Linked DNA regions of Homo sapiens. The protein of the gene in region 7 purifies or fractionates together with the protein of the main gene of each other region. This does not show direct contact. Each region holds a gene or a part of one and is shown on either strand. Other genes may lie near its edges. The genes, in order: PIGO, GOLGA5, HSD17B6, TNPO3, BTBD9, PIGN and ATP2B2.

The links.
Region 1: the proteins of ATP2B2 (region 7) and PIGO purify together in Homo sapiens (affinity purification with mass spectrometry; 2 studies listed by BioGRID and IntAct, with this or other methods). This does not show direct contact.
Region 2: the proteins of ATP2B2 (region 7) and GOLGA5 purify together in Homo sapiens (affinity purification with mass spectrometry; 2 studies listed by BioGRID and IntAct, with this or other methods). This does not show direct contact.
Region 3: the proteins of ATP2B2 (region 7) and HSD17B6 purify together in Homo sapiens (affinity purification with mass spectrometry; 3 studies listed by BioGRID and IntAct, with this or other methods). This does not show direct contact.
Region 4: the proteins of ATP2B2 (region 7) and TNPO3 purify together in Homo sapiens (affinity purification with mass spectrometry; 2 studies listed by BioGRID and IntAct, with this or other methods). This does not show direct contact.
Region 5: the proteins of ATP2B2 (region 7) and BTBD9 purify together in Homo sapiens (affinity purification with mass spectrometry; 2 studies listed by BioGRID and IntAct, with this or other methods). This does not show direct contact.
Region 6: the proteins of ATP2B2 (region 7) and PIGN purify together in Homo sapiens (affinity purification with mass spectrometry; 2 studies listed by BioGRID and IntAct, with this or other methods). This does not show direct contact.

The regions. Positions count from the first base shown.
Region 1 is NC_000009.12:35,090,890-35,093,591, forward strand, and holds part of PIGO (GPI ethanolamine phosphate transferase 3, catalytic subunit), read right to left. Parts: intron 2,692-2,702; coding exon 2,532-2,691; intron 2,321-2,531; coding exon 2,141-2,320; intron 1,879-2,140; coding exon 351-1,878; intron 1-350.
Region 2 is NC_000014.9:92,832,305-92,835,804, forward strand, and holds part of GOLGA5 (golgin subfamily A member 5), read left to right. Parts: intron 1-817; coding exon 818-1,043; intron 1,044-3,254; coding exon 3,255-3,360; intron 3,361-3,500. UniProt on the Homo sapiens protein: Involved in maintaining Golgi structure. Stimulates the formation of Golgi stacks and ribbons. Involved in intra-Golgi retrograde transport.
Region 3 is NC_000012.12:56,783,824-56,787,323, reverse strand, and holds part of HSD17B6 (17-beta-hydroxysteroid dehydrogenase type 6 precursor), read right to left. Parts: intron 2,472-3,500; coding exon 2,308-2,471; intron 1,423-2,307; coding exon of another isoform or gene 1,379-1,422; exon of another isoform or gene 1,310-1,378; intron 200-1,309; coding exon 1-199. UniProt on the Homo sapiens protein: NAD-dependent oxidoreductase with broad substrate specificity that shows both oxidative and reductive activity (in vitro). Has 17-beta-hydroxysteroid dehydrogenase activity towards various steroids (in vitro).
Region 4 is NC_000007.14:128,999,612-129,003,111, reverse strand, and holds part of TNPO3 (transportin-3), read left to right. Parts: intron 1-1,877; coding exon 1,878-2,053; intron 2,054-2,544; coding exon 2,545-2,683; intron 2,684-3,500. UniProt on the Homo sapiens protein: Importin, which transports target proteins into the nucleus. Specifically mediates the nuclear import of splicing factor serine/arginine (SR) proteins, such as RBM4, SFRS1 and SFRS2, by recognizing phosphorylated SR domains.
Region 5 is NC_000006.12:38,587,930-38,591,429, forward strand, and holds part of BTBD9 (BTB/POZ domain-containing protein 9), read right to left. Parts: intron 1-3,500.
Region 6 is NC_000018.10:62,156,057-62,159,556, reverse strand, and holds part of PIGN (GPI ethanolamine phosphate transferase 1), read left to right. Parts: intron 1-1,748; coding exon 1,749-1,870; intron 1,871-2,329; coding exon 2,330-2,428; intron 2,429-3,500.
Region 7 is NC_000003.12:10,495,587-10,499,086, forward strand, and holds part of ATP2B2 (plasma membrane calcium-transporting ATPase 2), read right to left. Parts: intron 1-3,500. UniProt on the Homo sapiens protein: ATP-driven Ca(2+) ion pump involved in the maintenance of basal intracellular Ca(2+) levels in specialized cells of cerebellar circuit and vestibular and cochlear systems.

The DNA.
Region 1 (2,702 bases), on a different chromosome or scaffold from region 7:
TCTTTCTTTCTCTCAAACACATACAGCTCAGTGCCATTATATATTCACAATTTACTACTTCCATCACTGGAAAATCAAGAAATGTGCTCATGAGGATGCAGCATTTCCACAGGGAGTCTTAGAGGACTCCTTGTCTCTCCTCTCCATGAACCCTGGGAACCAACAGGAGGGATCAATTTGCTTGGCTATGGCAGGTAAGAGAGAGGACACCAAGAAGACCTTCCTAGTTGTGTGGGGCATGGGACCCTCTGTCAAGCTCAGGAACATGAGGAGCAACACCTCCTTGAAAACAAGAGGGGCCGAACTCACATCACTATTGTCTTTAAGTGAATCAGAGCTGAGATATTTACCAGGGGTGGTGACGGGTATCCCAGCAGCAAGCAGATGTAGGAGAAGGAAGCTCTGCAGAAACAGAAGCAGGAACACAAGGCTGATGCGCTCCGCATGCAACAGCAGAAGTGGGAAGGCCAACAGGGTGAGGGCTGTGACCATAGCAGCTGAGTAGACACTCCCCAACTGATAAGCAGCCACAGTCAGGGGACCCTGAGATTTGGTCCTCTCTAACCGGCCCCGGAACTCCTCCTGCATGTGTCGGTAGATTTGAGGGACCACATAATCCAAGTCAGCTTGAGAAGTGGGGGGGCCTGAGAAGGGAGTGAGGACAGTCCTGGTCCTTGGAGCGCCTGCCCCAGCCTTCACCAGCACTGTCACAGGCTTCCAGAGCAGCAGCGCGAGCCCTGAAGCAGCCAGCCCTGCTACAGCCCGAGGCAGCACCATGGATGCCCCAGAGACCAGGACCCGGAGACGGGGGGGAGCCTCATCTGCCCCCGACGCCAATGCCCAGTAGGCAGCAGTACCCAATGCCATTAGGGGCAGTCCCCAGCGCACAAAGAGCATGGGTGGCTCGGGGCTCTTGAGATTACCATAGCGGCGAAGCCACAAGCGCACGGCAGCTAACAGGGCCACCAGCGCCGCCACACAAGCTCCATACCACAAATTCTTGGCTCGACCACCCACCATGGATGCCAGAGGACTCAGCCAGGGAGAGGAGTGGCAAACAGGTGTCTCTTCAGGGCAACGATGAAAAAGCCCAGCTAGCCTTGTACATAAAAGCAACCCAATTCCAAGCCTCAGGGCATATGCACCATTGTGCCGTGGGGGGTTTGTTGTGGCTGAAGTGCCAAGGCGGGGCATTGTGAGTAGCTTAGGTGGAAGCAGCTGGCCCTCCCAGTGAAGCTGGACAACCAGGAGCAGGATGAATGAGCCCAAAAGGAAGGGGGTGGCCCTGGCCTCAGCTACAACAAAACTATCAGAGAAGAACACAGCCAAGCGAAACAGCAGGAGTAACAGGACGGGCCCAGGGATGGGAAACAGGGTTGCCAGGGGCCTCTTGGACCCCCAGCCAGCCCAGGCTTTCCACAGAAAAGGGAGGAATGAGCTCACTGCAGCCACAGCCCCTAGAAGCACTAGATCTAGCTTCAGCTCAATAGTTCCCAGGAGTCCAGCATACGCTATGGCCCCAACCAGGCCCCAGGCCACAGGTGTCAGGAGTAGAGGGCAGAATGGAAAGCCTGGGGATATTGCCCACTGAGATGCCAGCAGGCAGATAAAGCAGGAAGCAGCCAAGAGAGCAGTACCCCCCGCCATGCGGACCAGAGAGAAACGAGCCCAAGACTCGATGCACATGGCCCGAGCTCCCCGCAGGAACTGCTGCAGCTCAGCAATCACAGTCGGCAGTGTCGCCTCAGCCCCCTTGGGGCTCTGGAGAAGCCACTGGTAGTCAGCAGAGGCCTTGGAGAAGAGGTTCTGCAGCTGATGAAGCTCCTTAGCTTGAAGGTCCTGAGTAGCAGCTGAGTAGGTATGAAGAAATCGGGACACCTGGCAGAGAAAAGGTCAGAGGCCAAGGGGAACAGGTCAGAGACATAAATTGGGGCAGAGGCAAGAATAGGTATTACAAAAGGGGGTACCTGGAAGTCAAGGACCCAAACTCTGTCCAGAATCGGGGAAGGGAGGGATAACGGAAGAGGGATAGGTATGGAAGGTGGGACTAAGACTAGTCAAAGGACAAAAGAGTGGTTCATTATGCTTCTTTCATGCCCACCCTAGCTCTGTCACCTGGAAACCCAGCCCGCTTACCTACCTGCTGAGCATTGAGATGGAGAGCTGAGGCTTGGGCTAAAGCAGAGGAGTGGGGCTGGGAGTCCTCACCCCCTGAGAATAGCTCAGCCATCACTTCCCCGATATTCCCAAATGGGATGGGCAGGCCCAGCAGCAGGGCCAGCGTGGGCACAAGGCTAACTTGAGGAATCACCTCTGGCTCCTAAAGGAAAATGACAGTGGTCAACAGATTCATCACAAAGCTGAAGTCAATGTTTGGGATGGCAGACATAGGGGCCTAGGTAAGAAATGAGAGTGGAGGATACCCAGGATCATGGATTTGGGGGCCTAAAATAGAGGTATTCATGAGGATGCTGTAATGGTAACATGGGCTGATTACTGGGAGAACAGATGAGGAACATCCCAGGCCTCACCTCTGGTGGGGTGCTGGGGAAGACTGCTGTGGGGCTATACAGAAAGAGAGCAGCTGAGACCTCCAGCTCACTGTCCCCTCCATGGTCTCCATTTGTGGTCATCCCATGGTCCCCAGCCACTACCAGCAGTGTGTCATTCTCCAGACGCTCCACAAGTCCCCTGGGGGCCAA
Region 2 (3,500 bases), on a different chromosome or scaffold from region 7:
AATTTGTGGGGAGTGCTGTAAGGGATTTATAAGAAAGAAAGGCAGGTGGAGCCTAGATAAGAGAAGGGGATTGAGTTTCCAAACAGAGGAAACGTGGCCGGCATAGCGGAGGCTGGAGGAGAGTAGAGGGAGATGGAGACAGATAAGACCAGATGGAAGATGGAATGAAGGAAGTCGTTAAGTATCAACTTTCAGCCAGAGTCTCCTAGGACAACTATCATTTACTGTCCCTAAATACCATGTGCAACGGGTGCTGTCATCTTCACTAACAGATGAGGAAACAGATTCAGAGAAGTATAGCAATTAACCTGAAGTCAAATAGCTTGAAAATTGCAGAGCAGAGATGAAAACCTCAGAGTGTGATCTTTGCACTGCACCGTAACTGTTGAATGACGGAGGCTTTTGAATCCCTGTTGAAAAGTGTGGATTGTGTCCTCTAAACCCATGCTTTGAAATACTTTGACCATGACGCCTCAGTGAGAAAAACAGTTTACATCGTGTCTCAGTACTGACATGCACTTACATGTACCAAACTGAAACAGGAGTTTCACAAAATTATACTTTTATATATACTATATGTTACATAAATATCAGAATATGTCCCATTCTATTACATTTTCTAAAATGCTGATTTTGACCCACCAAATTGATTTCATGACCCCAGTTTTTGAAAATCACTTTTGTAGACATTGAGTCAGTATAGAGTTTTGAGAAATCAATGAATGCCACAATTTACCTATGAAAATGTAGTAGTGTGATTTCTGTATTGTATGACTTTCATTTTATGTAAGAATTTTGTGAACACTTTCTCTTTCAGCTTACCAATAAAACTTTAAGCAATAGCAGTCAGTCTGAGTTAGAAAATCGACTCCATCAGCTAACAGAGACTCTCATCCAGAAACAGACCATGCTGGAGAGTCTCAGCACAGAAAAGAACTCCCTGGTCTTTCAACTGGAGCGCCTCGAACAGCAGATGAACTCCGCCTCTGGAAGTAGTAGTAATGGGTCTTCGATTAATATGTCTGGAATTGACAATGGTGAAGGTAATCAAAAAAGGAATCTCAAAAGAACATTTCATTCAAACATGCTTTTGAAAAGTTATAGAAGGACTATTTTTATTTGAAAGAAACTTCATCCAGTGAAGGACTCAATTTTCTGATATGAGACCTGGGCCACGTACTGTTTAGTATTGTTAGTGAACCGGATAATGGACTAATTAATATTCCTCACCAGTATTAGACTTGGGGAAAGTAGTCTGAGGATTGATAATTATATTGTAATGTCTGAGACACTTAACAAGATGATGCTGACAAGGCGAGGAATTCAGTAGAGAGGAGCTTTCAGGACACTTGAAACAAGATTTGCTTTAATAATCTTCCAGTAAATAGTTACGGGTATTAGAGCTAATACATAGTTCACATAACCATATCTAAAGAAATCTATAGATTCCCAACATATGTAATTAAAAAATAATGTGTAAGATAGTATAAGCATCAACAGATCAGATTTTTAATCTTGGAACTTCGTAAAGTCTACAAATTGTCATTCAGCAAATTTCTCAGTTCTTTGGCTTTAAATTATTTCTTTTAATAAAAAAAATTGTTTAAGAGACGCTGGGTGCCAGGTATGGGGATGGCACTGTAATTTAAAAAGGGTGATCAGGAAGACCTCGTTGAAAAGTGTCACTTCTTTTTTTTTTTTAATGTATAATTATCATTTTATTTGTAATTGTTAATTACAAGTAAAAATGAAATTATAAATAAGTAAATCATACTCCTTAATGGCATAAATAAAAAGTGCCTCGCTTAAATTAATAAAATTTTCCTGACCATAACTTCTGTGATTTTTTTAAGGGTTTTCAGTTTCTTTTAGGTTTCACCTTTTTTTTTTTATTTTATTTTTTTATTATTATTATACTTTAAGTTTTAGGGTACATGTGCACAATGTGCAGGTTAGTTACATATGTATACATGTGCCATGCTGGTGTGCTGCACCCATTAACTCGTCATTTAGCATTAGGTCTATCTCCTAATACTATCCCTCCTCCCCCCTCCCCCAGCCCCACAACAGTCCCCAGAGTGTGATGTTCCCCTTCCTGTGTCCATGTGTTCTCATTGTTCAATTCCCACCTATGAGTGAGAACATACGGTGAAAAGTGTCACTTCTTTAAAGTCCCAAAGGAGGTAAGATAGTGAACAATGAGGAGGCATAGAAAAAAAGTGTTCCAGGCAGAAAGAAGAGCAGGCACAAAGGCCTTGAGGCAGGCATGTTCCTGGCATATTTCAGGAACAGCAAGGAGGCCAAGGCCTCTGGAGTAGACTGAGTGAAGAAGACACTTGTGTAAGATGAATCCAGAGAGCTTAGAATAGGCCGTTGAGGCCTGTATGGGGACTTTTACTCTGAATGAGGTAGGAAGCCATTGAAGGATCTTGAGAGGGGGGACTGATCTGACTTGCACCTTAATAGGCTGCCTCTGACTGCCATGTCAAGAATAGACTGCACAGGGCTAAAAGTGGAAGCAGGGAGACAGGGCAAGAGGAGGCCGGAGGTGGGTGGGTAGCCATTGCATTAATCCATGTGAGAGATGGTAGTCTAGAACTGAGTGGGATTGTGAAGGTGGACTGAGAATTTATTTTAAAGGTAAGCTGACAGAATATGTTGGCAGATGAGATACGGAGTTTGAGAGAAAGAAGTCAAGAGTTTTGGCCTGAGCAGATGGAAGGATTGGAATTGTGATGTCCTGAGACAGGGAAATGGCAGCTGAGGCAGGTTGACAGCGAGGACAAGAACTCTGAATTGTAGTGTTAGGCAGGCTTTGGGGTGCCCGTTAGATATCTGGATGGAAGCGAATAGGCAGTTGGATGAGTCTGGCAGGGGATGAAGCCTCTGGGCTGGAGTACACATTTGGGAGTCCTCTGCTTCATAGAAAGACCACCCGGCCTCACTCCTCCTCACATAGGAACAAAGGGCCCATTAATATTGACTCTTGTCAACGCTTAGTATTTGTAAATTTCTTAATTTTTGCTAAAATCATTTTCTTATTTAAAACTTTTTTCTTGTTGTGGATATGGATGTTTAAATATTTATGTCATCAAATTTACCTGTCCTTTCTTTATAGTTTCATCTACTTTGGGGTGATGCTTAGAAAGTTGCCCTTGAAAATTCCTTCCACATGTAATACAGTGTATTTCCAATTATAATTGTCTTAGTTAATTTTTATGTCAGTACACTAATTTATTTTCTTATTTAAACAGGCACTCGTCTGCGAAATGTTCCTGTTCTTTTTAATGACACAGAAACTAATCTGGCAGGAATGTACGGAAAAGTTCGCAAAGCTGCTAGTTCAATTGATCAGTTTAGGTAAGCAATGCCAGTAGGGATGAGTGATGGACCATCAGCTGTTTTTACGTTTTTCAGGGTTTCAATCACAGTGACTCCCATCAGGCAGAGTCTATATTTAAAGTGACTTACTCCTTTCAAGATATTTTATACTTATATAC
Region 3 (3,500 bases), on a different chromosome or scaffold from region 7:
TTGGGCCAAGATCTAGTCAAAATGTAGTCTGCCAGTGATGTAGGTAAATAAGATAGAGGGATGAAGAAAAATTTAGCATCCCAGCCAGCTGAATATCGAGTTCGCGGATGCACCGATGTCAGAGCATGTTCCATGCAGTCAGTGACCAGGTTCAGGTTTGTGCTACAATTCAACAGCCCTTCCTTCATGATATTGTAAACTGTATACAAAAAAAGAAATGGTGGTCAACAATCTTATTCCTTATATTTTTAAGATCATGCAGTCACAGAAGTCTCACCACATCTAATTTCTACAAAATAGAATGATCTAGAATGTGCATCCCAATATGATAGCCACTAGCCACATGTAGCTATTGAGCACTTAAACAATAGCTAATGCACTGGAATAAAAACTAAATTTTGGATTTTATTTAATTTTAATTTTAAAACTCAATCATTTTTCTTTTTTTGTTTGGTTGTTTTTTGGGGTTTCTTTTGAGACAGGGTCTTGCTCTGTCACCCAGGTTGGAGTGTAGTGGTACAATCTCAGCTCACTGCAACCTCTGCCTCCCAGGCTCGTGATCCTCCCTCCTCAGCTTCCCACATAGCTGGGACTACAGGTTCGCATCCCCATGCCCAGCTAATTTTGTTTATTTTTTGTAGACACAAGGTCTCACTATGTTGCCCAGGCTGGTCTTGAATTCCTGGGCTCAAGCGATCCTCCCACATCAGCCTCCCAAAGTGCTGGAATTATAGGTGTGAGGCACCACGCCTGGCCTCAAAACTCAATTCTGATGGCTGGGTGCAGTGGCTCATGCCTGTAATCCCAGCACTTTGGGAGGCCGAGGTGGGTGGATAATTTGGGGTCAGGAGTTCGAGACCGGCATGGCCAACATGGTGAAACCCCATGTCTACTAAAAATACAAAAATTAGCCAGGCTTGGTGGTGCATGCCTGTAGTCCCAGTTACTCAGGAAGCTGAGACAAGAGAATTGCTTGAACCCGGGAGGCAGAGGTTGCAGTGAGCCAAGATCACGCCACTGCACTCCAGCCTGGGTGACAGAGCGAGACTCTGTCTCAAAAAAAAAAAAAAAAAACACACAACTTAATTCTGTTACTAGAGGATTTTTAAATAGGTTTAGAACAACACAGATATGGGAATATACTTTTTCAACTGGAAATTTTTTTAACATTATTGAGATATTCATATATCATAAAATTCAGCCATTTAAAGTGTACAAATCAATAATTTTTAGTATATTCAGAGTTGTGCAATCATCATCACAATCTACATTTAGAACATTTTCATCATCCCAAAAAGAAACCCTGTACCTATTAGAAGTCATTCCCATTTTTCACCGCTGCTGCTACCTCCTCCTCCAGGTCTTCAGAATAATATTCTTATAGGAAATTGACAAATCCCACTCCCACAAAGCTCCTATCACCTGAACAAGAGAAATATAGCCTCAGGGAATGGCCCATAGGGCTCTGCAAAGACTTATCCTCACTGACTTACCTCTTCCCACCTACATGCTTTCTCCTGTCACATTAAGACACATAGTTTGTGGACAAGCCCTTTGTTATCAAAAGGTAAACAATGATGAAGACTGCACTTTAGTTGAGCAGACATCTCACACCAGCCCTGCAATGCTACCAAGGGGCACACCCTCTCAAGGGTCCATGCCTCTAAGTATGTAATACCTCCTAGTGCTCAGGTGCCCTGGCCCACAGAGGACAAGGCAGGGAAGAGCCTGGCCCCAGGCCGCCTATATGTCCCCCTCCTCAACCATGATAGTCATCAGACCAAGCCAACCATGAGACCACTGGGACCTTCCTGACTTCCTTCTGTTCTGGGAATGCTTTATTTAAGGAGCTTTGTCCTGAGAGGATCTGCCAATCATTGTCCACCAACCCTCTTTTCCCCTTCTCATGCAAGGGTACTGATATGGTTTGGCTTTGTGTCCCCACCCAACTCATCTTGAATTATAGTCCCATAATCTCCACATGTCGTGGGAGGGACCTGGTGGGAGGTACTGAATCATGGGGGTGGTTCCCATATGCTGTTCTTTTAGTAGTGAGTTCTCACAAGATCTGATGGTTTCATAAGGGGCTTTCCTCTGCTTGCACTCATTCCCTCTCCTGCCATCCTGTGAAGAGGTGCCTTCTGCCATGATTATAAGTTTCCTGAGGACTCCCCAGCCATGCAGAACTGTGAGTCAATTAAACCTCTTTTCTTTATAAATTACCCAGTCTCAGTTATTTCTTCATAGCAGCATGAGAATGGACTAATACAGGGTACCCATTATCCCTATCAAAAGAAAAAAGCTTACGGGCATCAAAATACTGCTGTCCATAGGTCTCCTTAATATGCTTGGGGGCTTCTTTCCAACTTTGCTTCATTCGCTCTAAGGACTGTGTCATGTTTGTCATTCCCGTTCTGAAGTAGCCAGGTTCAACTATGCTGATTTTCACCCCAAAATGTTGAATCTCACGCCTGAAATAAAACCCCACAAGTTATGATTAAAGACCACCACCATTTCAATGCTTTCAGGAAGGAAAAGCAAAACAAAAAAGATTATAAAATACCTTTACTGAATATTTTAAAGAATAAAGAAATCTCCCTCTCCCTCTCCCTCTCCCTCGTCTCCCTCTCCCCACGGTCTCCCTCTCCCTCTCTTTCCATGGTCTCCCTCTGATGCCGAGCGGAAGCTGGACTGTACTGCTGCCATCTCGGCTCACTGCAACCTCCCTGCCTGATTCTCCTGCCTCAGCCTGCCAAGTGCCTGCGATTGCAGGCATGCACCACCATGCCTGACTGGTTTTCGTATTTTTTTGGTGGAGACGGGGTTTCACTGTGTTGGCCGGGCCGGTCTCCAGCTCCTAACCGCGAGTGATCCGCCAGCCTTGGCCTCCCAAGGTGCCGGGATTGCAGACGGAGTCTCGTTCACTCAGTGCTCAATGGTGCCCAGGCTGGAGTGCAGTGGCGTGATCTCGGCTCGCTACAACCTCCACCTCCCAGCCGCCTGCCTTGGCCTCCCAAAATGCCGAGATTGCAGCCTCTGCCCGGCTGCCACCCCGTCTGGGAAGTGAGGAGCGTCTCTGCCTGGCCACCCATCATCTGGGATGTGAGGAGCCCCTCTGCCTGGCTGCCCAGTCTGGAAAGTGAGGAGCGTCTCTGCCCAGCCGCCATCCCATCTAGGAAGTGAGGAGCACCTCTTCCCGGCCGCCATCCCATCTAGGAAGTGAGGAGCGTCTCTGCCCGGCTGCCCATCGTCTGAGATGTGGGGAGCGCCTCTGCCCCGCCACCCCGTCTGGGATGTGAGGAGCGCCTCGGCCCAGCCGCGACCCCGTCTGGGAGGTGAGGAGCATCTCTGCCCGGCTGCCCCGTCTGAGAAGTGAGGAGACCCTCCGCCTGGCAACCGCCCCGTTTGAGAAGTGAGGAGCCCCTCCACCTGGCTGCCACCCCGTCTGGGAAGTGAGGAGCGTCTCCGCCCGGCAGCCACCCCCTCCGGGAGGGAGGTGG
Region 4 (3,500 bases), on a different chromosome or scaffold from region 7:
AGCTGGGACTACAGGTGTGTGCCACCACACCTGGCTAATTTTTTGTATTTTTTTTTTTTTTTTTTTTTTTTTGAGAGGGAGTCTCGCTCTGTCGCCGGGGCTGGAGTGCAGTGGCGCCATCTTGGCTCACTGCAAGCTCTGCATCCTGGGTTCATGCCATTCTCCTGCCTCAGCCTCCTCAGTAGCTGGGACTACAGGAACCTGACACCACGCCCGGCTAATTTTTTGTATTTTTAGTAGAGATGGGGTTTCACCGTGGTCTCGATCTCCTGACCTCGTGATCTACCGGCCTCAGCCTCCCAAAGTGCTGGGATTACAGGCGTGAGCCACCGCGCCCGGCCAATTTTTTGTATTTTTAGTAGAGACAGGGTTTCACTGTGTTAGCCAGGATGGTCTCGATCTCCTGACCTTGTGATCTGCCCACCTTGGCCTCCCAAAGTGCTGGGATTACAGGTGTGAGCCACCATGCCCAGCTCGAACACTGACTTTTTATAACTTGGTAATATAATGAGAATCTTTGAACCTACTATTCAATCTAAGAATACCTAATAAATAATTTGCATCTTTGTGCTCTCCCAAACCTGCTTATATACCTTTTTGTCCCACTGGAGATTTTAAATATCCTTTTAAAAAAATTATTCAAGGAAGACTAATACGCCCTTACTAAGTGTATTCAACCTCTCAACTGTACTCTCTTCACTAGAAACCCGGGAGGATTCCCTTCTTGGACCTTTTGGTCTGCTCTGATTTGCATCAGTTGTTCTTTAGATCTACTCCCTGTCATCTTGGGACTTGTCTTTACTGTGCTTTCTGGATTAGGTTAGCTGTTTCTCAAACCCCCTCAAATAACTTCTTCAGAAAAGATATAATGGAAAGTAAACTTGGAATTTTTGCATGCCTGAGAACTATTTTTATTTTGCTTTCGATCTTGATTGATGGCTCAGCTAGGTATTAAGTTGTAGGCTGAATATTATTTTCCTTCAAAATTTCAAAGGCCTTGCTCTCCTTTACTAGCATGCATCATTGTTAATGAAAAGTCAGAGAACTCTGAATTCTGCTCCTTACTATTACCTCCTCCTCTCTTCCCCTGAAATTTTACAGACCTTTGTTTAACTCTGGTATTCTGAAATTTCACAATGATGTGTTTAGGTATGTGTCTTTGATACTTGTTGAGCCCTTTCATTTTAGGTAGTACTTGAGTATCAGAAAAAGGATGGAAAAGATTTTTCACACACTAGAATAGGGTAGGGAACACATGGCTTTCCATTTGGAGGGGCTGGTGTGAACAAGAACATGGAGATTAGAAATGATACGACCATGACTTCGGGACAGAAAGGCTGATTTGCTTGACATATAAGGAAATAGAAATAAGATTGGGAAGATTGATGGATGTTGTCTCATGGAAGGCTATGACTTGACTGTTACACATTTAAAGTACATGTTCAGAAAGAGGCTATAATTGAAAGAAAGAAAGAGGCTCTAATTGTTTTCCTATTACATTTATCCATCACTATCTTCAAAGGATTGGTTCCAGGACCACCCACTACCCCTGCCCCTCTGTGCACAGTTTCCAAGAGATGCAGATGCCCAAGTCCCTTATATAAAATGGTGCAGTATTTGCATATAACCTATCCACATCTTCCCATATACTCTAAATCACCTGTAAATTACTTATAATACCTAATACAATGTAAATGCTATGTAAATAGTTGCTATAGGGTAATTTTTAAATTTGTGTTTTTCATTGTATTATTATTTACTTATATTTTGAATATTTTCTATCGATGGTTGATTGAACCCTAGGGTGTGCAGGGCCAACTGTAGATCACTCCTTAGTGATCATACTTCTTGCTTCCCTATTCCTGCTACCTCCCCAGCAACAGGATAAGACCTCGTCTAACCTACATGAAGCTGCTTCGGACTGTGTATGCTCAGCTCTCTATGCCATTGAGAATGTGGAGACTAACTTGCCATTAGCCATGCAACTTTTTCAGGGAGTGCTGACATTGGAGACTGCCTATCATATGGCCGTGGCACGTGAAGATTTAGACAAGTGAGTAATTGTTTAAGTCTGGAGCCCTGGGTTTACCTACAGTCTGGTCATTCTTTTAAGTCACTTTTTATTATTCGTCTGTCATTTGTGATTCTCAGTGATTCTGTAAAGTACAGATAGTGCTTCCTAAAGATGCTCTACTATGCTCTTCTGAACCTAGAGTGGCAAATTGGGTGCAGGGTTTGTAGAATTACCATAGAAAGGTAAGGCTTTAAAAGTTGGAGACAAATTTTAAAATATCAAGTGTGATTTGATGGGAGTTTTTATTCAAATGTTTTAATAATTGAGAATTTGAACTGACAAGTCACTTGCGTAGGAGTGTACGATCTAGGTAAAGGTGTCTGTCATGGGGATTGTGATACAGCATAGTAAATAATCACTAGATGTCCCTTAGACTGAGGAACCTTTTATTTATTTGATTAACTGTGCCTGTATATACTTATAATATCCAGATTTCTGACTCATTGTTCTCATTCCCCTGTCTTCTACAGAGTTCTGAATTACTGCCGTATTTTCACTGAACTATGTGAAACTTTTCTTGAAAAAATTGTTTGTACTCCAGGCCAAGGTCTTGGGGACCTTCGAACTCTGGAGCTGCTGCTTATCTGTGCAGGCCATCCTCAATATGAGGTAGTGTTTATGCTATTCAAAGGCCATTATTCTCCAAGTTGTGTGCTGCATATTATCTATATTTCATTACCTCGTGCCCAAATTTTTATTGTTGAGAAATTACAGTCTTGTTTTTAATTAATGTGATTTCATCTGTTTTGGAATTTTTTAAAAAAATTATATTTGGGTTTCTGCATTGTGTCCATTTCTGTTTTCTTACCTGGTTGGCTGGGCTGTTGTAGGCCCCTCAAGGAACTCGTTAGAAAGCAAGCCTTTCCAATGAACCCCTTGTCTAGCTTGACTTATTCTCTAGAGTGTTACAGCTAAAAAACACCAAATTCTAACTATACCTCCACAAGTCTTAACACCCCCAATTTTTCTCCAAATGATGGATGAGAATGACAAAGGGATTGAAAGGACTTAAGGGTCTCTGTCATTCAGAATCCTTGACATCCTACTTACCGAGGTTTGCTAGATTTTTTAAAATCTCATTTATTTGAGAAGTTTTACCTCTTTATAGTATAAGAAATGAGAAAGGGTCGGGGTTGGTGGCTCACACCTGTAATCCCAGCATTTTGGGAGGCCGAGGTGGGCAGATCACCTGAGGTCAGGAGTTTGAGACCAGCCTGGCCAACATGGTGAAACCCTGTCTCCACTAAAAATATAAAAATTAGTCAGGCGTGGTGGCTCACACCTGTAATATCCCAGCTACTTGGGAGGCTGAGGCAGGAGAATTGCTTGAACCTGGGAGGCAGAGGTTGTAGTGAGCTGAGATCGGGCCACTGCACTCCAGCCTGGGAGACGAGCGAAACTCCGTCTCAAAAAAAAAAAAAAAAGT
Region 5 (3,500 bases), on a different chromosome or scaffold from region 7:
GCAGAAGACTGTTCAGGAACATCTGACAGCATTGCCGCCTCCTCCTCAGTAGCAGCTCACCCACCAGGAGTTCAGCCACAGCAACCACCATATACAGAAGCTAAGATACAAGCAGGTCAGACTGAAAGTCAGCTGTATCAATAGTACCAGCAACAGGCTAGCTATGGTGCACCGTGTCTGCGGGCTCTACCTCAGCAGCCTCAACAGTATGGTATTCAGTATTCAAAAAGCCAGAGTCAGCAGACTGGACTCCAAACAACCTCAGCAGTTCCAAGGATATGGCCAGCAACCAACTACCCAGGCACCAGCTCCTGCCTTTTTGGTCAGCCTCAACAACTGCCTGCTCAGCTGCCACACAGTACCAGGCAAGCAATTATCCTGCACAAATTTATACTACCCAAACTTTTCAGCCTACTAATTATACTGTGGCCCCTGCCTCTCAACCTAGAATGGCTCCAAGCCAACCTGGGGCCTATAGACCAAGATCAAGTTTTACTTCACTTCCTGTAAGTAGCATGACCCCTCCTCCAACTGGGCCTAATCCTTATATGTCCTCCCTTTGGTCAGGGCTATACCAAACCTGGACCTGGTTATCGATAACGAGGCTTATCTACACCAATTAATGTAGCTGCTAGCTATTGGCCTCCCAAAAGACTCCAGTACTGTTTTAATCTGTAATGAAGTTCACAAATTTTAAAAGCAGAGCATTTGTTATATCTTTGTTGCTGTTAATTGAAAGTATAATTTGCTGGAACACAAAGACCAAAATCAAAGTTCTTTCCTCCCTGCTTAAAAATATAGCAACTTCTTAGTTATTTTGGAACACTACTCTTACATGTATGTAAAGTGATTGACCTAGCTTCCCTTGTCCAGAGGATATTAAAATGCTAGTGTAAGGTTTAGTCATCTTACTTGGCTTTCTGCTATTAACATGATGTACTAAAAGTAGAGCCCTTTTAGAATACGACTAGATGTCATGTATAAAATGTAAGACTGATAGATTAATAAAGATGATTGAATTAAAAAAACCTATCTTTTCAGGGTCTGACAGGGAAGTGTAATGCTTCCTTGTATTTATATTATTGATTTTATTATTCACATGCTTTAAAAGTCAGGAAAAACAGACTTACTTAATCATTACTCAAGTTCAGAAGTTAGATAAAGGATTCCCAAACATTTACATAGTCTCTTCCTTGAGCTCCCCCTCATTCACTTCAAAGTGAAGAATTTAACATTGATGAACAACAATCTGTGTATGTGTCATTCCAGAACTGAGTGACTCAACTGGCTAAGTTCTCCCTTTCGCAACTCATCTCCTGAGTTTCTTGTAACCCAGGTACTACCCTTATACTGACCAGTTGATCAATTCCAAACTACCAGTAACCATGTGAAATGTCCAAAACAAATCCTCACTCCTGCAAACATGTCCCAAGATTATCCCTATAATGAATCCAGTTCTAGGGCCTTTTCAGCACTTCAAATCAAATGCAGGGCAAGAGAGGGAAAGGAACTTATATAAGACAGGATCCGACATGATAATTTGAAAAGCCTAACACTAATTACTCATCTTACTACCTCTTCACTTGCCATCCTCCCACACTTTATCCAAGGCTGACACTTAACTAGTACCATTCTCTAGCACCTCTGATTTCTTCCTGGACCTCTCCCAACCTGATCTCTCTAGCTACCATACTATTTTTTTACTACCTTACAATCCAATTCACAAATCAGACAGACAATATGTTATCTCTATTATCTTTTCAAACATCCATGGCCTAATTCCCTGGCAGCCAATCTTCTGTCCAGATTACTTATCAACTAATCACAATTTATATCCAAAAGTTGTCTCTCAATTTTCTTGACCTCCCTATCGTGAGCTACCATTGACCATTGGATCCATAGGAAAGCTCTCTCCTCCGGTTGTCCTCTGTAACTCTATTCTATCCCAAATGTCTTCCTTCTTCCTTCTCTACCTTAAGTCCCCTGGCAATAGGTTTTCTCCAAGTTTCAGACTTTGTTTTTTACTTCTTTTTCTATACTCTAGCAGCTCAGGTTTCAACTCTTTTATCACCAGCTTTGACTGGTCCTAAAGAGTAATGTGTTCCTATTTCCTATTAGACATTTCTCCCTGCATTCATTCACTAAGCATTCACCAAGCATTCACCAATTACCCATTATATGCTATTTGGTGTGTTAAATGTTGAGGATATAGAGATCAATAAGGCCTATAAAGATCATCTCTGCCTTCAAGGATCAAAGACAAGTAAACAAAAATGTTTAAAACAATGTGATCAAGGTGGTAATTCTCACACAGATATACACAGAAAAAAAAACACATCATAATGATATATGGTAACAATGGTTTCCTATATTGAGCTTGCACACATTATTTTAATTAAGTCTCATAACAATGCTAGGAGATATAAAAGGTAAAATTCCTTAAATAATTTAATACCAGATTGTACAACTAGTAAGTGACTAATTCAGGATTTGAAGTCAAATTTGTCTGGGCCAAAACCTATGTTTCTTCTCCTATGCCCAGTGAAAAGAAATCTAGACCTGATAAGTCAGGAGAGAATTCTGTTAAGAACATCTATTTAAGATCAATCAGTATTTCAAGAGAATGTTTAAAGGCATAGTCAAGAAGAGATAACTCAGGGAAATGACTAGTTTGGGACAGAAGTTACAACTTGCAACCCCAAAACCCTCAAACTCAATCTAAAAATCAAGCTCAGCATCTTCTTCAAAGAAGTACTGTACTGTATTTCATTACAGACATACCTAGTGTTCAAATTTTTAAATTTCTGAAATCGCAGTGTAGACATCATAGTGTGTCACAGTTAATTGGCAGTATTGTTTCTTTTCTTAGTGGAACATAAAATAATGGTGCCTGAGAATTTCTGGCTTCTTAGATTTGATAACAAATGGTAACTTTCTCCTAAACTTAATCCCCACATTTATATCCCTTGAATCATCAAGATCTATTTTTTTCCATTGTATCCGTTCTAATCATCCATTATTTTCCATTTTCCCTGCCACCAATCTGGTTTGAGGTAGTATCAATTGTGCACAGATTAAATACTCTCCTCACTGGTCTCTCTGAATCAGTTTTCCCCTATTCTAAATACTCAAATACAGCACTATGGATCAGTCTTTCAAAACCACCACTGCATGCATGCCACTCTCCCTCTCTCAAATTGGTTCCTCACTGCATGTAAGGGAGATTCCAATCTAGTTTCCAAGACTTCCATAAACTGGCCTAAGCTGACCTTCACATAGTTTCTTTGCTATTAATCAATAAAAGCCTTCTACTCTAATCAAGCTCTTCTATTTATGGTCTCTTCAAATGCTCTAACCTCTGTCTATTAACCTCATGATTCTTCCCATCTGAAATTCACCCAACTCTTATACTATTCAAATCAAATGTCAAGGCTCAACTCAAGCTTCATAACCTCCATGAAATCTCCCTCAACCATACCAAGCCACTTCTTCTGAAGTTC
Region 6 (3,500 bases), on a different chromosome or scaffold from region 7:
TAAGTACAGTACACAAAAATCTGTAACAAATTTCTAGAAATAATTAAAGTATTTGGGTGAATTTCTTAGTTGCCAAAGGAAAGAGAGAAATATACTTCATTTCAAAATTAAGAGGATAAAAATATACTGGTAAAATAAAGTCAAGCTTTTCTGGTGGCACTTGTTTCTCCTTTGGATCTTACTAACGGAAGCTCTGTGGGCTCAAACAGTTGATGTTTTGTGTTGTGTGCCATTGTATATTTACAATGTCAGGAATCTTCTAGCTTCTTCTAAGCCTGTTTTTGAAAGGTTTTTTGTTGTTGTTATTTGTTTTGAGAGGGAGTCTCACTCTGTCGCCCAGGCTGGAGTGCAATGGTGCAATCTTGGCTCACTGCAACATCTGCCTCCCAGGTTCAAGCGATTCTCCTGCCTCAGCCTCCTGAGTAGCTGGGATTACAGGCACGTGCCACCACGCCCGGCTAATTTTTGTACCTTTGGTAGAGACGGGGTTTCACCATGTTGACCAGGCTGGTTTCGAACTCCTGACCTCCACCTGCCTCAGCTTCCCAAAGTGCTGGGATTACAGGCGTGAGCCACCGCATCTGGCCCAAAATTTGTTTTATAAAAACGTGATCTAAACTAATGTTTTTAAATACAGTATCTAAACTAATGCTTTTAAATAGAGTATCCACATTTCTTTATACCTCCCCTTTCTGTTTAAGTCCAGTTTTCATTATATAACTCAAGAAGTTAAAGAATATTTCTCGTTAATATTTGGTCCAGTGGTTTTGAAACTGTTTACTTATTATGAATGTATTTCACCAAAACTGCTTTTATTATTAGGTAAGTCAATAGTAAAAGAACTGACACCAGTAGTTATAAATATTTTTCTTTAGAATGTATTGAGAGGCAGATATTTATCTTGAAAAATGTTATTGTTGAGTTTACTATTTTATAACTTATTGCTCTGCTGGCCTTTCACCTATAATAGCACCACTTGTAGTTTTGCTTTCTTCCCCAAATTTTGCAAATCACTGTGGATACAACTTAAATAATGTTGACATCTTTTAGCAAAATAATCTTTTTGCCTGTTTTAATCTCAAATTTGGGGATATAATTTAACTCCTAATTAGGAGTGTAGCCATTTTCCCTCCCCTTAGTTTTTTAAGAATTTTTCAACTAAACAAATTTGAAAGGATTATTTGATGAACATCTGTATACCCTTTACCTAGTATGACAATTTTAACCTTTTTTCATAATTGCGTTCACCCTCTCCTGGCCCCTCTGCCACCTGCACCACAGGGGTACCCATGTATGTCCATCTAGTTATAATTATTTTTTCCTTAACAATTCGAAAGCAAGAAACTTTACCCCAAACACTTCAGCCTATATCTCTTAAATAACCACAATACTATTATCACACCTAATGCAATTTAACATTGATATAATAATATATGTTTTATCTCTGGATAACAAACCATCTCTGTTTTGTGGCTTAAAACAACAATCATGTATTTTGTTTCATGATTCTGTGCAGTGGTTGAATGGTTCTTTGTTTGGTCTTACATCAGCAAATTCATGCTGCTGCATTCAGCTGGTAGATGCTAGGAATGGGCTCACCTGGAATTTGAAAAATTCCTTTCCTTCTTAAGTTTTGACTTAAGTTTTTTGCTTTTGATTCCTTCTGTAATAATCTTATGTTTCTAAAGCTTTATGTGAGAGTATCTAATCATAGTCTGTGTTAACTATTTGTCTTTAATATCTTTTAGGAATATCATAATGCATGAAGGCAGCTGGGGCATATCTCATACACGTGTGCCAACAGAATCTCGGCCAGGTCATGTAGCTCTGATAGCTGGGTTTTATGAAGATGTCAGTGCAGTTGCCAAAGGTATTGTCTATTTGGACAATCTTATGAAATGAAAAATTTGTCAAGTAAATATTAGTCCTTTACCACTTAATCATGTCACAAAGTGAAGGTATGTTTTGAGATATTTTGGACAAATGTTTTAGCATGCTTTGCTGACATGAATACCCACTGGTACTGACTCCAGAATTGAAACTTTAGTATTTCATTATCCTGTGTTATTGAAAGAATTTGGGTTGGATGGAAGCATAATTTTCCTAGATATTACTCTTGAAAGTTCAAAAATAATTTTATATTTCATTAAGAAGTAAATTATCTATTGTTAGTTTTTTTTTAAATAGTGGTATAATATGCATAATATAAAATCTATTAGTTTTGCATTTATTCACTGACTAATGTAATTGTTATTATTTGAAGAATAGTTCTTTAGGGGCTTATTGTACCATGTGTATATAACTATTACTGCTTGCTTGCTTTCTGAAGGATGGAAGGAAAATCCTGTAGAGTTTGATTCTCTTTTTAATGAAAGTAAATACACATGGAGCTGGGGAAGCCCAGATATCCTGCCTATGTTTGCCAAAGGTAAGAGTCACTGATTATGTTTCCTCAGATAGTAAATAGGGAGTAAGTCAATATGGTAGTTTTCTATTTTTATGTATGTAATGTATGTGTTGATTTTTACACATATTTTTACATTTTTAACATTTCTGAAATAGGGATGTTTAATTACAGTATTTTTTTTTCCTTCTTAGTTATACTTGAGATATTGGCACATCATACAGTTAGATAGTATTTTGGATTCAATTAAGTGGTATATAGCACTATCGCTTAACAGCTATATAATCTTGAGCAATTTATATAACCTCTCTGAGCTTCAATTTCCTTTTCATAAAATGTGATAATATTAGTTTCTGTCTCATAGATTTATTTTTATAATTAAATTATGTAATTCATGTGAAATATTTAGCATAGCACTTTTCACATAACTTGATTATAAATGATGATGTTGAGGTGTGGTTCATTATACTTTGGTAAATTATTTTAAAAGTTAGTAGCTACTCATATAAAGATTTAAACATTGGCTGGGCACAGTGGCTCACACCTGTAATCTCAGCATTTTGGGAGGCTGAGGCAGGTGGATCACTTGAGCTCAGGAGTTGGAGACCAGTCTGGGCAACAAGGTGAGACCCACATCTCTACAACAAACAAAAAATTAGCTGAGTGTGGTGGCATGTGCCTGTAGTCCCAACTACTCAGGTGGCTGAGGTGGGAAGAGTGCTTGAGAGCCTGGGATGTTGAGGCTGCAGTGAGCCATGATTATGCCACTGCACTCCAGCCTGGGCAACAGAGCAACACCCTATCTCAAAAAAAATATTTAAGTGTTAAAATATATAGTTATAATTCCTGTTTTAATACATCGAAGATGCCATATATTCTGGCATTTGATATATATGGCATTTAACATATAATTTATTTAAATTGATATTTAATATACTGAATGTAGCATTTAGATTTATTGTTTATATGCATGATTCTGCAAATATTGGGACATCTCTTAATTAGAAAATTCATTTATATTATTTTCTAAAATCAGTTGGATGAATTTCATGTCATTAAATGCTTTTAAGTGGGAGCAGAAAGATTGATCATTTCA
Region 7 (3,500 bases):
GGGAAGCTGATGTCTCCACTCAGCTCAGAATTTCCTTCCCCTGAGGTCATGGGGCAGACTCAGGCCTCTGAGAGGGCAGAGAAGTGCCTAGAAACAGCCCTGGGTCCCAGTGCCAGGTCTCGCTTAATTTTATTGCTACTCCCTGAGTGCAGGAGTGGCCCAGGCCACATACTCTTCACCACACTGACCCCATTTTGTAGATAAGGAAACTGAGGCTCTGGAAGCTCTAAATACTGTGGTGGTGAGGCTGAGTCTTGGTCCTGGAAGTTATTCATGGCCTAGCCCCCAGGCAGGGCACCCGCAGTCGTATACCACCTTCTACCTGGGGCTGCCTCCGCCTCCCAGCAGGAGTTGTTTCTGGAGCTGATTCATCTCTGAGCTCAGCAAGGAGCCCGACAAACAGCCTGGTCCACACCAAATACTTAGCTAATACTGGTTTTATTGATTTGCATTCTATGCCCTCTTCAGGATGCTCTGAGCTCAGAAATCTGAAATTGGCTGGGGGTGGGATGGGGAGAAGGGCTTCATTTTAATCTGAAGTGAGTCATGTAAGTTGATAAATTTAGAAGTGGCCTAAAGAGCTCTTAATCTGCTGCCTTCAGATAGTTGCTAGGAAGAGACTGGCACCCAGCAACCTTTGCATCCCAAATCCACATAACAGAGTGGACACTGTTGGTGCCCACCCTAGTCCTCCTTACCGGTCTGCAGCTTCCACACCCCAGCTGCTGGGAGCTAGAGCTCCCGGCTGCCCCTTCTTTGCAGGCTTGCCCTGGGAAGAACAGGAGCTCCTGCCCGGGCAATTGCACACAGCATCCCACTCAGAAGGCAGCCGTGGCCAATAACTATCTGATATGGGGTATGAAAGGCCAGCTTTTTTGCTTCAAGGCAGAGCCAAACCTGGGGCGCAGTTCATGCCCCACATCCCCCAAGGGATCAGCTGAGGCCACACGCTTGTTTATCTCTTTCTCTCCCTACCTTGTTTCCTTTCAGCCCCTTTCTCCTGAGCGCTGTCTCATGCTTGCTCCTAGTGAGTCCAACCCAAGATCCACACACATTGCACTCCACACGCAGACACTAGCTCCACCCCTCCAACCCCGCCCCTTCCCCCGTGACCTGGACATCAGCAATGTCCAGGCAGCTTCGAATTTTAGACATTTAAAGTCTCAGGGGGCCCATCTGGCTCCAAAAGGCTTGTTTCAAAGATGGGAAACTGATGCTCAGAAAGAGACTGTGACTTGTCCAAGGTCACTTGAAGTGCTTGTCATGGCTGGCTGCACCCAGGTCTTTGTCCTCCCCCCAACTCCAATCCACTTTGTGGCCCTAGCCTGTCTGGTGGCTGGACCAACGGGCCAGCCACGGCTTTTGCTGTCTCCAGGAGGGAATTTTGCTGTGTCAACTCTGCAGAAGCCACTTGGAGGCCAGGAGAGTGCTGGCTGGTGGGCTTGCAGGATGGTTGGCAGGCTCTGCTGACCTTGGGCAGCTGTGGGCAGGGTGGGCATCCCAGTTAGGCCCCTTCCACTGTTTGTGGTGGTCAGGCAGAAAATTGAGGGAAGACAGAAACGACTTCTAATGAGGGCCCTAATTACCCTGTGGATCCCTGAAGCACTGGTGATGTATCTGCTGGTGGCTTCTTCTAGAAACCCTCCTCTCCATGGCAAGAACTGCTTTCTCCATAAGAGAAAGAGTCCTGAACCAACATGGGCAAAGAGGCAGCATTGGGCTGGTGCCTGGACATTGGGCTGTGGTTCCAGTCTGCTGGGAGCTGGCTGTGTGATCCTGGGCAAACCAGCATGCCTCTTGGCCCTTGGTTTTCTCAGCTATAAAGCAAGTGCAGCCTCAACTGCTATTATTTTATTGAGCCTAGTGTTTATTTTAGTATCATTTATTGAACTAGAAGAGACTCATTAAAGTTCATCAAATAATAATTGCTTACACTTCTGCCAAGGGCTGTCCTAAGCACTTTAATTTTACTTAATCCTCACAACAATCCTATGAATTGGACACTTTTGTTATCCCCATTTTACAGATGGTGGGACTAAGGCACAGAGAAATTAAGAAACTTGTGCTGGGTCACACAGCATGGAAATGGTGGAGCAGGAATTAGAATCCCAGAGTCTATGCTTTAAATTCCTCCTTGTACTACGGTCTTTGCTGTTTGTTTTGCACGGCCATTTATTAAGCACCTACTGCATATGGGGACTCTGCTGGTCACGTAATACACACAAAAGTTTGCCGACTTCTCACAGCTGCTCCGGCAAGCAGGTGTTCTTTTGCTGATTGTTTCAGAGTGGACACAAAGGACCCAGTGAGGGACTCACCGCAACTGAGCTGGGGAGGCAGGTGGCAATCCTGGCTTCTTCCCACCAGCCTGGTGGCTCTGTTCTGAGCCCCTTATAAAACTGATCTTATTTATCATATTTTCTTGACTCTAACCTGTATCACTACTTTACGTATATTTAAGAAATAAAAGGCATGGCTGGTTCCACTGTGGTGTAACACCAGTTGTCAGGCACAACCTGGCTTCAGAAATGTCAAAATGTATATCTTGGAATCCGCACAGTTCAGTCTCCGACACAACGGCCTGATGAGGCAGGCAGTGTTGTCATCTCCATTTGACAGTGGAGGGAACGGAGGCTTGGAGATTAAGGACATGCAGCTGGTCAGCGGCCAGGCATTGGATGTGACCCCAAGCAGCCTGGGCCCAGATGTTGTCCTCAACTACTGCGCTACATCAACGCTAAGTCAGGCCCACGTAGGATGGCGTGCCCTGCCCATGGGCACAGATCAAAAAACTTCAGAAGGATCAGTGAGCTGGAGGCCAGCACCCTCTGCTCCGGATGAGCCTGGGGGCCTCACTCAGCGTGGATGCCTCAGGCATGCAGGAGGCACCCCAAATGGCTGCCACAGCATTCCCCGCCCACTGCCTCCACAGCTCCCTTGGGCCTGCAAGGCAGGTGTTTGACAGAGCTGGGCTAGAATGAGTTCATCCAGATGACGCCCCCATGGCTCCCACAAAATGGTCCCGGGGCAGCCAGACATGGCCCGGTAGAGTAGCCCAGCCGGCACAGGAAAGGCACCACTTTATAGGAAACTGCCTTCAGAGGCAGCACAGAAGCTTGCAGAGACCTGCTTTCTTCCTTCAAAGCTACATGGTGCTTGGACCCCAAACGGTGTCATCCATTCACTGCTTCTCCCATAGGCTCCACCAATCCCATATGCTCCACTATGGCACGACTGCTCCCAATTTTCCCAAATCAAATCCACCCTCCTTGGACTAGGATGTGCCCCTTCTGGGGACATCTTTAAGATGCCCACAAGCAGGGCAGAAGCTCAACATATTTCGAATGCCTGGCATGATGAGGGTTCCATTTGAGACATTACCTACCCATCATCTCGTGGCACAATCTTGTGAGGCAGGTTTTTCCCACTCCACTTTGCATATCAGGATGTCAAGCTCAGAGAAGCAAAGCTACCTGCCCAAGGTCACACAGTAGTAAACA